Homo sapiens: one gene and its partners. The protein of the gene in region 1 purifies or fractionates together with the protein of each later gene. This does not show direct contact. Each region holds a gene or a part of one and is shown in the gene's direction. Other genes may lie near its edges.

Region 1 (5,405 bases):
CAGCCACACGCCAGGTCCCAGCCCACGTGTACTTCAGGGCCATTCCCAGGAAAAAGCTGACTCCTACTCCTTCAAAACAAACAAATAAACAAAAAACGAACCAAATGGAATGAGCTCATGATAGTACCTGAATTTGTTTTTCATCAGTACAGAAACATTAACATTAATTGTAATCTTCTTCTTGTTTGTAAACTTTAAAAATACATACTGTCAAGTTTTCTTAGATAGGGAGTTAAATCCAATTTAGGCAAAGTCAAGATAGAACCACGACGTGCTTTCTTATTATAAGCCTCCTTCTGTTCTGCAGACCTTTAGCTGGTTAAAATACACTCTGTAATTAGTAGTTCAGATAAAAAACTCACAAAGTTCTCCTGAAACAGAAACTCTTAACAGTGAATCCCTAACAATATTTATCTTCCCAATCTCTTCTGCCCCTTCCCCAATCTGCTTAAACTCCTAGTTCTTTTCCTACCCCCACAATTCTCAAACACAGCCCTGAAGATCAAACTCTAATCCAGAAGATGGAAGCTCAGCACATACAAACAAATTTGGGGCCAGGCATGGTGGCTCACACCTGTAATCCCTGTGCTTTGGGAGGCTGAGGCAGGAGGATCACTTTAGTCCAGGAGTTCAAGACCAGCCTGGGCAACAATAGTGAGATCTCATCTCTACCAAAAATTCAAAAATTAGTCAGGCATGGTGGTGTGTGCCTGTAGTCCCAGCTACTCGAGAGGCTGAGGCAAGAGGATCGCTCGAAGTTACAGTGAGCCATGATCATGTCACTCTAGCCCTATCTAACAACCACCACCACCAAATTTTGGACTTTAAAGGGCTACCACTGAGAAACAGTATCTCTGTAGAAACACTCACTGTTTGTTATTGTTTGTTTTTATTTGGTAGAGATGGAGTCTGTGCTATGTTGCCCAAGCTGGTGTTGAACTCCCGGCCTCAAGTTATCCTCCTGTCTCGGCCTCCCAAAGTGCTGGGATTATAGGTGTAAGCCATCCCAACCCCAGACTCCACCCCTACTGCCACCCGTTGTTTTTTTAAAAGATGGTAGAAATTAAAGCTTCATCTTAGCTTTCGTGACAAGCAAGAGAAAAAAAAAAAAAGAAAATTAAAGCTTCAGTTAGGTCAACCGATTTAACAAGAAAAAATTCTTGACTTGGCATTTTGGCCACTGAGAAAGTCTCACTTTTTTCCTTGCATATTTCCTTGCATATCGTATTTATTGTACATAAATCTTGGCTTCCATCTTCAGAGAGCAAAGTCTTTGGTCTAAAAACTGAGAAAATACTGCTCGATCCTTGCGGTGGGTAGTGATTAGAAGAGGGCAGGACGCGGGTTCCTAGGGTGCAAGTAACGTTCTGTTAATTGATCTGGGTGTTCACTTGGTGAAAAGTCTGGAAGCTGTACCTGCGACATCGCACTTTCCTAATGTACGTTATATTTCAATAAAAGATTTTTTTAAATTGGACTGCTTGAAAGTTATTTTTAAAAATTACATGCTTTTGAGACTTGAGCAGCTGCAAAGGCTCTGTTTTCTATTTTGATCATTCTGTTTCTCGAGATGACCACATCTTTCAGAGGAAATGAGTCAAAGCCACTCTGTCTTGCTTTTCCAGCTGAGCATGTTCTGTTTCAATGAAGTAATGAATGAACTTGGCCGCACCACCCCCAAGCCTACAACAGCAAACAGAGGGCCCTCGGCCAATCAGCAGGCACTCCGGGTTTTCAAGTTGAGTTCAAACAGGACCACCGGAGGCCAATCAGAGTGCGCGGCCCCGCCCCGAACGCCCGGCCGTGACCAACCACGAGGCCGGATGAGCCAAAACACAGCGGCCGGCCAATGCTGGGGAGCCCCACGGCGCCGAGCTCCGCCAATGGGCGCGGCCGGGCGAAAAGAGAAACAGTGAGGGCCCCACAGGCCGCAGGATTCGAATCGAACGTCCTTACGGGAGCCGGGCGCTGGCGGAGCGGCGCCCCGGCCAATCAGCGGCAGTCCCCGAACGTTGGGCCGGCCCAGCCCCGCCCCGCGCTGTTGTTTGTGGTGTCGGCCGGGCCGCGGGAGTCGAACCACAACATTCGCCGGGCGGGCGGCGGCGGAGCGGGCGGCGGAGCGGCGGCAGCAGCGGTGAGCGCGAGCCCCGGAGCCCCGGGCGGCCGGCCTCCCGCGCCCGCGCAGCCCCGCGTCTGCGTCCGGCCGGAGACGCCGGGCCCCGCGCCGCGCCGCGCCATGTCGGTGAACATGGACGAGCTGCGGCACCAGGTCATGATCAACCAGTTCGTGCTGGCCGCGGGCTGCGCGGCCGACCAGGCGAAGCAGTTGCTGCAGGCGGCCCACTGGCAGTTCGAGGTGCGAGCCTGGCCGCCGCGGGGCCGGGCCGCGGGGGTCGGGGACGCCGGGCGGCGGCGGGGGCGGGGAGCGCTCCTGTTGTCGGCCCGGAAGGCGATCGGCGCCCGCGAGCGGGTCTTACGCGGGACCGGGGCCGGGACCGGCTCCCCTCTGCACGTGGGGCAGCCGAGGGTCGGGGGCCGCGGGCCGGGCGCGGAGGCGGGGAGAGCCGGTGGGGGGCCCAGCCGCTGCGTTTCCTGACTCCGCCTGGCCCGCCGTGTCACTGCCCTGTTTGTCCGCAGACCGCGCTGAGCACGTTCTTCCAAGAAACCAACATTCCCAACAGCCACCACCACCACCAGATGGTAAGCGGCGGCGGGCAGGGGCGCGGGCCGGGGCCGCTGTCAGCGCGGCGGTGACAGCCATGTTGCCGGGGAGCGCCGCGCCGCGAATGTAAACAAAGAGCCAAAATGTCTTCCAGGAAAGAGCGGCTCCCGGGCCGGCGCTGGCGCCTCCAACTTTGAGGCCCGCCTCCCGGGCTGCTGCTGCTTGGCCTCGGGACTGGTGCCCGGCACTGGTCCCTGGGGGGAAGCGGCGCCAAAGTTGGGGGGAGGGGGAGAGGGCCGGGGGCCTGGCGAGGGGCTCAGGAGCTGGGGGACCCCAGAGCCAGGGGATGGGGAGGGGGAGAGGGTGATGCCCGGACGTCTGGGGCACTGGGAAGCCCGCGCGAAGGGCCCAGGGAGGGCGATGGGGGTGCTTGTGTTTATGGGGACCCCCTCGTGCTGTTGAGTGGTTTCCCCCCTCCCCCTCCACACACACACACACCCAGCGCTACAGGGAACAGGAAAGGCATGAATCCACCCTGGCTCAGGAAGCCGGGCTCTACCCACAAAGATCTGTTCAACCTTCCGAAGCCCAAGGGGACTGGGAAGTTGGAAGGACATACATCCCCCAAGCCAGGAGGACACACAGATTTTGACCCAAGATAAGGCCAGGAATGTGTCTTTAATCTCTGTGTTGAGCTCCACCAGCCCAGCACACAGAGAAGTGGTCCGGGGTCTGGATTTGCTTTCTTTTTCATTCTAGCCCAGGCCCAAGCTTTTGCCCTCCTGGCCATGGGGTACTCTGCTTTCTTGAGGCCCAGGACATCTCTCCTGTACCCTACCCCCCTAGTTACCTATTAGCCCTGCTGGGGGAGGAGGGGCAGGGCTCAGCGATAGGGATCTTAAAACATTGTTCCCCAGGAGAGCTGTTGTGGACTCTAGGTGCATTTTTGGGATTTTTAACACTTGGTGCCCTTGCCTTTGGCTCTCTGTTTTCATCTAGTCACAGAGGACAAGTAGAGGGGTCTGTCTTGACCTTGTTAGCTAGTTTTTCTCAGAATGGCTGATGCTGTATATAAATCAAGCCAAAATGGCATTTGAGTATGATGGGAGCATGGTGCTGGCCACAGGGCTCTTAGAAACCCAAGAGGGTTTCATCTCCAGGGGACACCGTCCCCTGCACTTGACCAGGAGAAATGGCCAGCACCCGCCTATGCTTGAGTCTCGAAGCTTCCTGCCATCTCCTGTCACCGGATCCTTGAGATTTCCTTCCACCAGCTGTGGCCATCCCAAAAAACTCAGAACTTCCAGATACTACAGCCATTCTGAGGGGCTGAGAACAGGGAGGCTCCCCAGGAAGAGCTGGTCTGGCATCCTGTTTAGTTCCTATTGCCCCTCCTCTGCAAATCCCAAGGAGATGCTAAGTCTCTTTTGAAGCTTCCCTCAAGGAAGGCAGCAGGTTTTGTAACACACATAACCAGTGTGTCCATCAGTGCCCAAGTCTGAGTGCCTTAGCAGCACAGTGGAGGACACCATCCCTGCTCTCAAAAAGTTCATGGTTTCTTTTTTTTTTTTTTTTTTTTTCTAATTTTATTTTTGAGAAAGGCCAGGGCAGGGGGAGTCTCTATGTGGCCCAAGCTGGTCTTGAACTCCTGGCCTCAAGCTATCCTTCCGCCTCAGCCTCCCGAAGTGCTGGGATTATAGGTGTGAGCCACTGCACCCAGCTGGCAATTTCTTTTCTTTTTTTTTTTTTTTGAGACAGAGTTTCACTCTTATTGCCTAGGCGGAGTGCAATGGTGTGATCTCGGCTCACCGCAACCTTCACCTCCTGGGTTCAAACGATTCTCCTGCCTCATGGGATTACAGGCACGTGCCACCTGTAATCCCACACCTGGCTAATTTTGTATTTTTAGTAGAGACGGGGTTTCTCCATGTTGATCAGGCTGGTCTCGAACTCCCAACCTCAGGTGGTCCGCCTGCCTCGGCCTCCCAAAGTTCAGGGATTACAGGCGTGAGCCACTGCACCCGGCCTGGCAATTTATTTTGGACAAAGTAAGTCAAAGGAAAAAGATCAAAAAACGAAACACTAGAGACCAGTAACAGCAAAATGGCAAAACCAGAAGTCATGAGTAACTGATAAATGGTTGTCCCGTACATTACTGTAGATTCCCATAGTTGGAAGCTTCCCAGTTGATAAGGAGGGCTTCCCAGTTGGAAGTGGAGAAAGGCACTACAGACTTGAAGTGGGAGGACAAAGGTACAGGGGACAATGGGTTTTCTTGAGAACTGGCCGAGAGGGCATATCTGGTTCAAAACCCTCATTTTACAAAAGCAGAGAGAAGCTCCAGAGAGGTTCAGGAACTTGCCCAAGCTTACACAGGCAGGCCACCACAGGCCTGCCAGCCATCATCCCTGCTGTTCTCTGGCGGCTGTTTGAGGAGACAGGCCTCGCTGGCTGGCGGGGAACTGGGGAAGTCGGTCACGATGCTGTGATGCAATTGGCCTCCACCCCCACCCTTCATTCATTGTTTCCTGCTGCCGAGAAGTCATCCCCAGAGGGTGGGGGGGGGGCAGGGAGTAGTGGAGGGAGGAGGGGAAAGGTCTGGGTGGGGCCAGGCCTCTGCATTGGGTCCTTTGGCCTCCCCCTGAGGACCCCTAGAAAGGCAAGGGTCAGAGCTCCCTTGGTGCCCTGGGTGCTGACATGGTGTGGGGCTCAATGGACAGGGTGTGCTAGTGTCCCCATTCCA
Region 2 (5,193 bases), on another chromosome or scaffold:
GGTAGGGAGAGACTCTGCCTTCACTTCTGGCAGAAAAGGGATGTTCAGTTCATTCACCCCCCTGACATCAGAGCTGAACTTCAATGTGGCAGCTATTGGCCACGTGTGCCTCCTGAGTGACTGGAATGTGGCTGGTCTGAACTGCGATGTGCTAGAAAGGTAAAATACAGAGTTAGTTTCAAAGATTTAGTTTCAAATGTTTATATACATTATTAATAATTACACATTCCTCACACATTAAAATGATAATATTATGGACATATTGGGTTAAATTGTTACAATCAATTCAACCTGTTCCTTGTTTCTTTTTCAAGTTTGTCTACTAGAAAATTTAAGATTCACATGTGGCTCACATTTTATTTCAGAAGATTACCATCTTTTTAAAATCTGAGGCTGCCTCCTTTAGCCGGGAAGGTCATAAAATCTGAAATTTTAAAATAATTATTGTTACATTCTTTTCATTTTTGAATAGCCACTATATATATATAAATATAAATATATATAAAAATATATAAAAATAAAAATATAAATATATATAAAAACATAAATATATATAAATATAAATATGTATAATATATAAATATATAAAAATATATAAAAATATAAATATAAAAAATATATATAAATATAAATATATAAATATAAATATAAATATATATAAATATATACATATAAATATATAAATATAAATATATAAATATATAAATATAAATATATATAAATATATAAATATATATATATAAATATATAAATATATAAATATATATATATAAATATATAAATATTTATATATAAATATATATAAATATATAAATATATATAAATATATAAATATATATAAATATATATAAATATATAAATATATATAAGTATATAAATATAAATATATATAAATATATAAATATATATATAAATATATATAAATATATAAATATATATAATTATATAAATATAAATATATATAAATATATATAAATGTATATAAATACATAAATAAATATATAAATATATATAAATATATATATAAATAAATATATACAAATATATATAAATAAATATATATAAATATATATAAATAAATATATATAAATATATATAAATAAATATATAAATATATAAATATATAAATAAATACATATATAAATATATAAAATATATATAAATAAATATATAAAAATATATATAAATAAATATATATAAATAAATATATATATATATATATATATATATATTTTAGACAGAGTTGTGCTCTTGTTGCCCAGGCTGGAGTGCAATGGCACAATCTCGGCTCACCGCAACCTCCGCCTCCCAGGTTCAAGCGGTTCTCCTGCCTCAGCCTCCCGAGTACCTGGGATAACACACATGGGCCACCACAACCCGCTAATTTTATATTTTTTATAAAGACTGGGTTTCTCCATGTTGGTCAGGCTGGTCTCTAACTCCCGACCTCAGGTCATCTGCCCGCTTCAGCCTTCCAAAATGTTGGGATTACGGGCGTGAGCCACCGTGACCGGCCCCATATATTATTTATAAATGCATATGACCTTACACACAAGGTTAAATGCAAATAACCTCTGGGGTGGGCCTGGCTCAGCTCAGGGAGGAAGCCCTGTCAGAGAAGGATGCAGCCCAAGCTGTCACTCTTCTTTCAGCCCCGCATCTCATCACATCTTCCGTCAATCATGGCCTGAGGGGGCGGGGATTTAAATGTTATCCAATCAGAGACGCTAGGCAGGGAACCGTCCAATCAGGCACGCAGGTGAAGCGGACAGGGCGGCTTCCGGGTTTGGCGGGGCCTTTGTCCCTCGCTGTGGCCTGAGCTCCAGGTCTCGTCTTCAGCGCTCTGTGTCCTCTGCTCCTAGAGGTCCAGGCTCTGTGGCCCTGTGACCCGCAGGTATTGGGAGATCTACAGCTAAGACGCCAGGAACCCCTGGAAGCCTAGAAATGGTGAGAGTGCCGGGTCCGACATCCCCAGAGAGGGGAGGGGCTGGTTGTAATGGGTGGGAAGTGGCTGTGGCGGGACTCAGGCCTCCCGGCAGTCAGCTGCACAATCTGCGCCCCGAGTTCTTGCCCAGCTGGGCCTCAGTCCCCATCAGCCTTAAGATGGCGGCTGCGCTGACAGGCGGGCCCCAGCACGTCCCGTCTCTTCCTTGCGCAGTGACTGTGCCCTGGCCTGGAGCCCTCTCTGGGCAGCTCTGCATCCGCAGCGCCGCGTCTCTCCCAGACTGTGCAGGGACCACGGGAGGATCGTCACGGGAGAATCGTCACGGGAGAATCCTGACTTGGGGTGCGAGTTCATGAATGGGAAGAACTTTGGTCCTGGGTTCCTAGTTCCTCTTTTCTCCTATTAAAAATGTACAGACCGGGAGGGGTGGCTCACGTCTGTAATCCCAGTACTTTGGGAGGCCGAGGCGGGCGCATCACTAAGTCAGGAGAGTTCAAGACCAGCCTGGCCAGCATAGTGAAACCCCGTCTTTACTAAAAATACAAAAATTTGCCGGGCATGGTGGTACACGCCTGTAGTCCCAGCTACTTGGGAGACTGAGGCAGGAGAATCACTTGAACCTGGGAGGTGGAGATTGCAGTGAGCCGAGATAGCGCCACTGCACTACAGCCTGTGTAACAGAGCAAGACTCCGTCTCGGAAAAAAAAAATGTACAGAAGTCACCACAAAAATATTAAAGAAATTAATCAAAGAGTGATTAAAAAACTGTTGAGCACCCAGCTGTGGTTTGTAATTTGTTGTTCATGGCGGGGCTTGAAGGAAAGACTTTTATAAGGTGCATGATGAAGAAAGCCAAATTCAGTAATTGGTTAGGTACCGTTATGTAGTTTCTTAGTTTGTACAATAAAGGTGAAAATTTTCTGGTTGTGTAATCAGACCTTAATTGGCAGTATACAGTTGATTAAGCCTGAATTTTGTGTCTTTCAATGTAGTAATTTTCAAAACGATGCGCCTGAGTTAGATTTTTTTTTTTTTTTTTTTTTTTTTTTTTTGAGATGGAGTCTCGCTCTTGTCGCCCAGGCTGGAGTGCAGTGGCACAATCTCGGCTCACTACAACTTCTGCCGCTGCCTGTGTTCAAGCTTCTCCTGCCTCAGCCTTTTGAGTAGCTGGAATTACAAGCGCCTGCCACCCTGCCCAGCTAATTTTTGTACTTTTAGTAGAGACGGGGTTTCACCATGTTGGCCTGGCTGGCCTCGAACTCTTGACCTCAGGTGATCCGCCTGCCTTGGCCTCCCAAAATGCTGGGATTACAGGCGTGAGCTATCACGCCCAGCCACGTTAGATCTTTTTAAAAGTAGGAACCCAGGGTCTAGAGACACCTCAGTCTAATTGCCTGCCACTCAATTATTTTCACACTCCACGGGGAACTGATTTTCTGCTGCATTTTTCACCTGTGTCCCAAGCAGGGTCTTAAGTCTAACCCCCGTCCCCCATTTCTCCAGCCTCACTCTGGCTTGCAGTAAGATACTAAATTTCCAGTTCTTTCTGGCGTTCCCAAATGCCAACTTTTCCTACCTAATTCACATTATCACCTATTTGTCCTTTAGTGTACATTTTTTACACCGTATTTTAATTAGTTATTTTCTGACAAAGTATTAAATGGTGCTTTTAATAAGATTTGTTATCTGTTTGTAAATATTTCCCATGTGAAGAAAGCAAAGAATAATCCCCTGACACTGTGTTGTAAAAACTCTCTGTGCTTCTTCTCCTTGTATCTTCTCTGGGCACAGAGATCTTGTCTCAGGATGTTTTTGGGTCAGGGTTTTCCTTTGGAAACTTTATGGGGTGTTGTGTCCTCAGTCACCCTTCAGTTTTTTTCTGGTCCTGGGTTTCAGTATTGTCTGGGGATAAACCAAGATATCCGCCATGGTTATGTCAGTTAGAGTGTCTAGTGGATATCAGCTTCTGGGTTATTTTCTCCCATAGGAGAACCTGAAGTCTGGAGTGTATCCTCTCAAGGAAGCAAGTGGATGCCCTGGGGCTGACAGGAATCTTCTGGTGTACTCTTTTTATGAAAAGGTAACCCCTTGAGATGTTAAAATTGTCTTCACCCAACCCAGCTTTCATTTCTTGGAGACACATTGCTGGTCAACCAATCAGACTGTGGCATTGAGGGGAAAACAAATAATTTTTGCCTCTGGATTGTCTAAGGGGGCAGAAAAATAGTGAAATAACTATAGTGAAAGTAAAATAGTGGAAAAAAGTGGAACATTTGTGACAGAAAAAATAGTATCCCAAAAGACAAAAAGAAAAAGAAAAACACTGACCCCAGTGAGATGGCGTAAGAACTTGCAAAGTTAAATGCCCGTGGGACAGTCACTGGGGCATAGTGTGGTATCTCCTGAGTGGGTGGTTCTTGAGCACATAAGTGAGCAGGAGTGGGTGGAAGACTGTTTGAAGTGATTGAATGGCCTGACTTGAAACATGAGTCAGACACATCTGTTTTTTCATCAGCACTGCCACTCCCTGGGTTTGTCACCTTGAAAAGATTTGTTCATTTATTTTAACCTCAGTTTTTTAGCTGTAAATTCTATTAGTAGGGCTTGAAAGGTAGGAAAATATTTACCAAAGGCATAAAAGTGGTGGGTTTAAGAAAAAAAATAGTATCTAATAATATATTCCATTCATTAAAAATTCTCTATTCCCTTTTTACCCCCAGGGTGAGTTTAGGAATTTTCTCAGGTGTGTTTTTTATGGCTGGGTGATTTCAAACAGAATTCTAAGGCTCAGCTTTTAGAATGCTACCAAGGAAATGAGTAGGGAAAATCTCTGTTCCATTTTTTTGTAGAAAATAAATACATTTCTACAAGAAAATGTGGTAGATAATTGGTGAGTTACATACATTCATGAAAACATGAGTTTCTCTCTCTGCAGGGTAAATTTGTGACAGTAAACATCTCTGTTCAAATCCTGTTATCTTGATTTCTGAGTTTCATGCTAAATTTTATGAGATGAAACTTGGTACCACCTAGAAGTTTTCCCATATGACTAACTGTTTACTAAATGATTCTTAATGGAATTCATAAAATAATGCATACATTATGTGAAAGAAATAGATATTTTGCTTTTTTTATTGAGGTATAAATTGCAAACACCTTAAAATTTCCTTCCCTTGTATGAACACTGTGACTAATTTTGCTAGATTTTTCAAACACATAGTTTCAAAAACCAAGTGAGTAACTCTAAC
Region 3 (4,762 bases), on another chromosome or scaffold:
TTAAATAAGTTAGAAGTGTTGCTGTTAATTTTTCTATTGAAGATAGGCATTCATAATTTCAAATATTCATTACAGTAAGGATGATAAAGAACTGATGAGAAATCCTATGTGATAGTAGATCGAGAAAGCAAAAGGAGGAAAGAAGCCTGTTTTCTTAATAAATAGATATTTGATCTATTTCAGTGCTTTTCATACACTTCTATAATAAAGTGCCATTTCTTGCCTTAGGTGAAAAACCATACAAATGTGAATTTTGTGAATATGCTGCAGCCCAGAAGACATCTCTGAGGTATCACTTGGAGAGACATCACAAGGAAAAACAAACCGATGTTGCTGCTGAAGTCAAGAACGATGGTAAAAATCAGGACACTGAAGATGCACTATTAACCGCTGACAGTGCGCAAACCAAAAATTTGAAAAGATTTTTTGATGGTGCCAAAGATGTTACAGGCAGTCCACCTGCAAAGCAGCTTAAGGAGATGCCTTCTGTTTTTCAGAATGTTCTGGGCAGCGCTGTCCTCTCACCAGCACACAAAGATACTCAGGATTTCCATAAAAATGCAGCTGATGACAGTGCTGATAAAGTGAATAAAAACCCTACCCCTGCTTACCTGGACCTGTTAAAAAAGAGATCAGCAGTTGAAACTCAGGCAAATAACCTCATCTGTAGAACCAAGGCGGATGTTACTCCTCCTCCGGATGGCAGTACCACCCATAACCTTGAAGTTAGCCCCAAAGAGAAGCAAACGGAGACCGCAGCTGACTGCAGATACAGGCCAAGTGTGGATTGTCACGAAAAACCTTTAAATTTATCCGTGGGGGCTCTTCACAATTGCCCGGCAATTTCTTTGAGTAAAAGTTTGATTCCAAGTATCACCTGTCCATTTTGTACCTTCAAGACATTTTATCCAGAAGTTTTAATGATGCACCAGAGACTGGAGCATAAATACAATCCTGACGTTCATAAAAACTGTCGAAACAAGTCCTTGCTTAGAAGTCGACGTACCGGATGCCCGCCAGCGTTGCTGGGAAAAGATGTGCCTCCCCTCTCTAGTTTCTGTAAACCCAAGCCCAAGTCTGCTTTCCCGGCGCAGTCCAAATCCCTGCCATCTGCGAAGGGGAAGCAGAGCCCTCCTGGGCCAGGCAAGGCCCCTCTGACTTCAGGGATAGACTCTAGCACTTTAGCCCCAAGTAACCTGAAGTCCCACAGACCACAGCAGAATGTGGGGGTCCAAGGGGCCGCCACCAGGCAACAGCAATCTGAGATGTTTCCTAAAACCAGTGTTTCCCCTGCACCGGATAAGACAAAAAGACCCGAGACAAAATTGAAACCTCTTCCAGTAGCTCCTTCTCAGCCCACCCTCGGCAGCAGTAACATCAATGGTTCCATCGACTACCCCGCCAAGAACGACAGCCCGTGGGCACCTCCGGGAAGAGACTATTTCTGTAATCGGAGTGCCAGCAATACTGCAGCAGAATTTGGTGAGCCCCTTCCAAAAAGACTGAAGTCCAGCGTGGTTGCCCTTGACGTTGACCAGCCCGGGGCCAATTACAGAAGAGGCTATGACCTTCCCAAGTACCATATGGTCAGAGGCATCACATCACTGTTACCGCAGGACTGTGTGTATCCGTCGCAGGCGCTGCCTCCCAAACCAAGGTTCCTGAGCTCCAGCGAGGTCGATTCTCCAAATGTGCTGACTGTTCAGAAGCCCTATGGTGGCTCCGGGCCACTTTACACTTGTGTGCCTGCTGGTAGTCCAGCATCCAGCTCGACGTTAGAAGGTATTGCATGAGGGGCGTCGTGTTTAAATGGCTGCCTACAGTGATTAATAGCTAATCCAGGCATTCTCAGTGGAGATGGTACCACTCCCAAGGGTGGGGGGTAGGCAGCCAGAAGTTCTTGGGGGTCACAGAGAGAAGCATTCTTAGATACGGCAGTGGTTTGTGGTCCTCCAAGGCTTACTTAACTCTGTGGGTTTAACTCTTAACCCTGTGTATTTTATTCTTTTGATTTGTTTAGTCTTACTTTATTTTTAGAGAAAGGGTCTTGCTCCGTCATCTAGATTGGAGTGCAGCGGTGTAATCATAGCTTACTGTAGTCTTGAATTCCTGAGTTCAAGAGATCCTTCTGCCTCAGCTTCCCAGGTAGCTGAGACTATATGTGCTGCTACCATGCACAGCTGATTTTTAAATTTTTTTTGTAGAGATGGAGTTGCCCAGGCTGGTCTTGAACTCCTGGCCTGAGGTGATCCTCCTGCGTTGACCTCCCAAGTATCTTAGACTACAGATGCACTCCACCACGCTTGGCTAACTTAAATTTATTTTTTTGTAGAGACAGGGATTTGCTTTGTTGCCCGGGCTGGTCTGAAACCCCTGGCCTCAAGTGATCCTCCTGCCTCGGCCTCCCAGAATGCCAGCATTACAGGCGCGAGCCACCATACCCAGCCTTATTCTTGAGTAATTTTTCTTGTCAATTTTATTTTTCTGTTGTGAGAGTGATCATGGAAACAGTGGGTGAGAACACTGGTCTGTCTAGTCCATTCTTGTCTTGCTGTTGAAATTCCAGATGCAGCCAGTTGAGGCCCCAGCTTGCCTCACTTCATCACAGCCCTTTTTCTTCCTTTGCACATGTATGGTGTGCTCAGTAGTCAGTGCCAATCCACCTGGAGTTGCGGGGGTTTTTTTTTTCTTTCTTTCTTTTTTTTTTTTTTTTTGAGACGGAGTTTTGCTCTTGTTGCCCAGCCTGAGTGCAGTGGCACGATCTCGGCTCACTGAAACCTCCTTCTCCTGGGTTCAAGCAATTCTCCAGCCTCAGCCTCCTGAGTAGCTGGGGTAATAGGCACGTGCCACCACGCCCGGCTAATTCTTGTATTTTTAGTAGAGACAGGGTTTCAGCATGTTGGCCAGGCTGGTCTTGAACTCCTGACCTCAGGTGATGCACTGGCCTCGGCCTCCCAAAGTACTGGGATTACAGGTGTGAGCCACCGCGCCCAGCCTAGGGGTTCTTCCTCACGCATTTTACCATTCCCTGCTGGCCTGTAAACTTCTTAAGAGCAGAAACCATGTTTTACATGTACAGCATCAAGTCACATGCTTCCCACACGGGGCAGAATAGGGGGCGCCCAGTAAGGACCACACGTGGACCCTTGACCTGGCAAGAGCAGAAAGCAAAAGAACTTCCGATTAAAGAGTCTTGTGAACCGTTTTGCTGTTAAATGTTGTCAGCCCTCCATATCCTTGGGTTCTGCCTCAGTGGATTCAACCAACTGCGGGACTAAAATATTTGGGGGAAAAATGGATGGTCGCATCTGTACTGAACATCTGCAGTTTTCTTTTCCTTGTCGTAATTCCCTAGATAATACAGTATAACAACTATTTACATAGCATTTACTTCATATTAGGTATTATAAATAACGAAGAGATGATTTTTTTTTTTTTTGAGATGGAGTCTTGCTCTGTTGCCCAGGCTGGAGTGCAATGGTGTGATCTCAGCTCACTGCAATCTCTGCCTCCCAGGTCCAAGCAGTTCTCCTACCTCAGCCTCCCGAGTAGTTTGGATGCAGGCACCCACCGCCACGCCAGCCTAATTTTTGTATTTTTAGTAGAGACGGCATTTCGCCATGTTGGTCAGGCTGGTCTCGAACTCCTGACCTTAGGTGATCCTCCTGTCTTGGCCTCACAAAGCGCTGGGATTACAAGCATGAGCCACCATGCCCAGCAGTGTAGAGATGATTTAAAGTATATGGGAGGTGCTGGATGTGGTGGCTCACATCTGTAATCCCAGTACTTTGGGAGGCTGAAGCGGGCAGCTCGATTGAGGCCAGGAGTTGGAGACCAGACTGGTCAACATGGTGAAACCCCGTCTCTACTAAAAATACAAAAATTGGCTGGGTGTGTTGGTTTGCACCTGTAATCCGAACTGTTTGGGAGGCTTAGGCATGAGAATCGCTTGAACCGGGGATGCGCAGATTGCAGTGAGTAAGTCTAGATTGCACTGTTGCACTCCAGCCTGGGCTAAAGAGTGAGACTCTGTCTCAAATAAATAAATAAATAATAAGTAAGTAAAGTATATGGGAGGATGTGAATAGGTTACGCTACAATACTGCAAATTAATAGTACTACAAGGCCAGTTGCGGTGGCTCACGCCTGTAATCCCAGGACTTTGGGAAACAGCCTGACCAACAATGGAGAAACCTCGTCTCTGCTAAAAATACAAAATTAGCTGGGTGTGGTAGCGCATGCCTGTAATCCCAGCTACTCCAGAGGCTGAGGCAAGAGAATCACTTGAACCTTGGGAGGTGGAGGTTGCGGTGAGCTGAGATTGTGCCATTGCACTCCAGCCTGGGCGACAGAGCGAGACTCCATCTCAAAAAAAAAAAAAAATAGTACTACAGATACTATGAATACTGCAGATACGACACTGTTTTATATTAGGGACCTGAGCATCCATGGATTTTGGTATCTGTTGGCTGGGGTGGTGGGGGCGGGTGGTCCTGGAGCCAGTGCCCTCTGGATACTGAGGGACAACTGTATTAATTTAAAACCAACCTTATTTCCCCCATAGGTAGATTGTTAACCTCATAGATGACTGGGGTTTTCCCCATAGAAATGTGTCCTGGTGGTGTCACTTCGTACAGGTGTCTGGCACATACCTGTATGTGTAAAAAAGTAGCTCAGTGTCCCAGGGACATCTTCTCCTTGGCAAACTCGGTCAAACTGCAGCATCTTCCTTTATCACATAGAAGCTCTACTGGTTTGTGCT

What was found. Proteins that work in one complex are often made in the same cells at the same time.
Region 2: the proteins of UBALD2 (region 1) and ZNF430 purify together in Homo sapiens (affinity purification with mass spectrometry; one large-scale study listed by BioGRID and IntAct). This does not show direct contact.
Region 3: the proteins of UBALD2 (region 1) and ZNF217 purify together in Homo sapiens (affinity purification with mass spectrometry; one large-scale study listed by BioGRID and IntAct). This does not show direct contact.

What each region holds. Positions count from the first base shown.
Region 1 is NC_000017.11:76,263,270-76,268,674, forward strand, and holds the start of UBALD2 (UBA-like domain-containing protein 2), read left to right. Parts: upstream 1-2,078; 5' UTR 2,079-2,236; coding exon 2,237-2,356; intron 2,357-2,637; coding exon 2,638-2,700; intron 2,701-5,405.
Region 2 is NC_000019.10:21,018,857-21,024,049, forward strand, and holds the start of ZNF430 (zinc finger protein 430), read left to right. Parts: upstream 1-1,800; 5' UTR 1,801-1,944; coding exon 1,945-1,947; intron 1,948-3,932; coding exon 3,933-4,025; intron 4,026-5,193. UniProt on the Homo sapiens protein: May be involved in transcriptional regulation.
Region 3 is NC_000020.11:53,572,747-53,577,508, reverse strand, and holds part of ZNF217 (zinc finger protein 217), read left to right. Parts: intron 1-228; coding exon 229-1,782; intron 1,783-2,200; exon of another isoform or gene 2,201-3,151; intron 3,152-4,652; exon of another isoform or gene 4,653-4,762.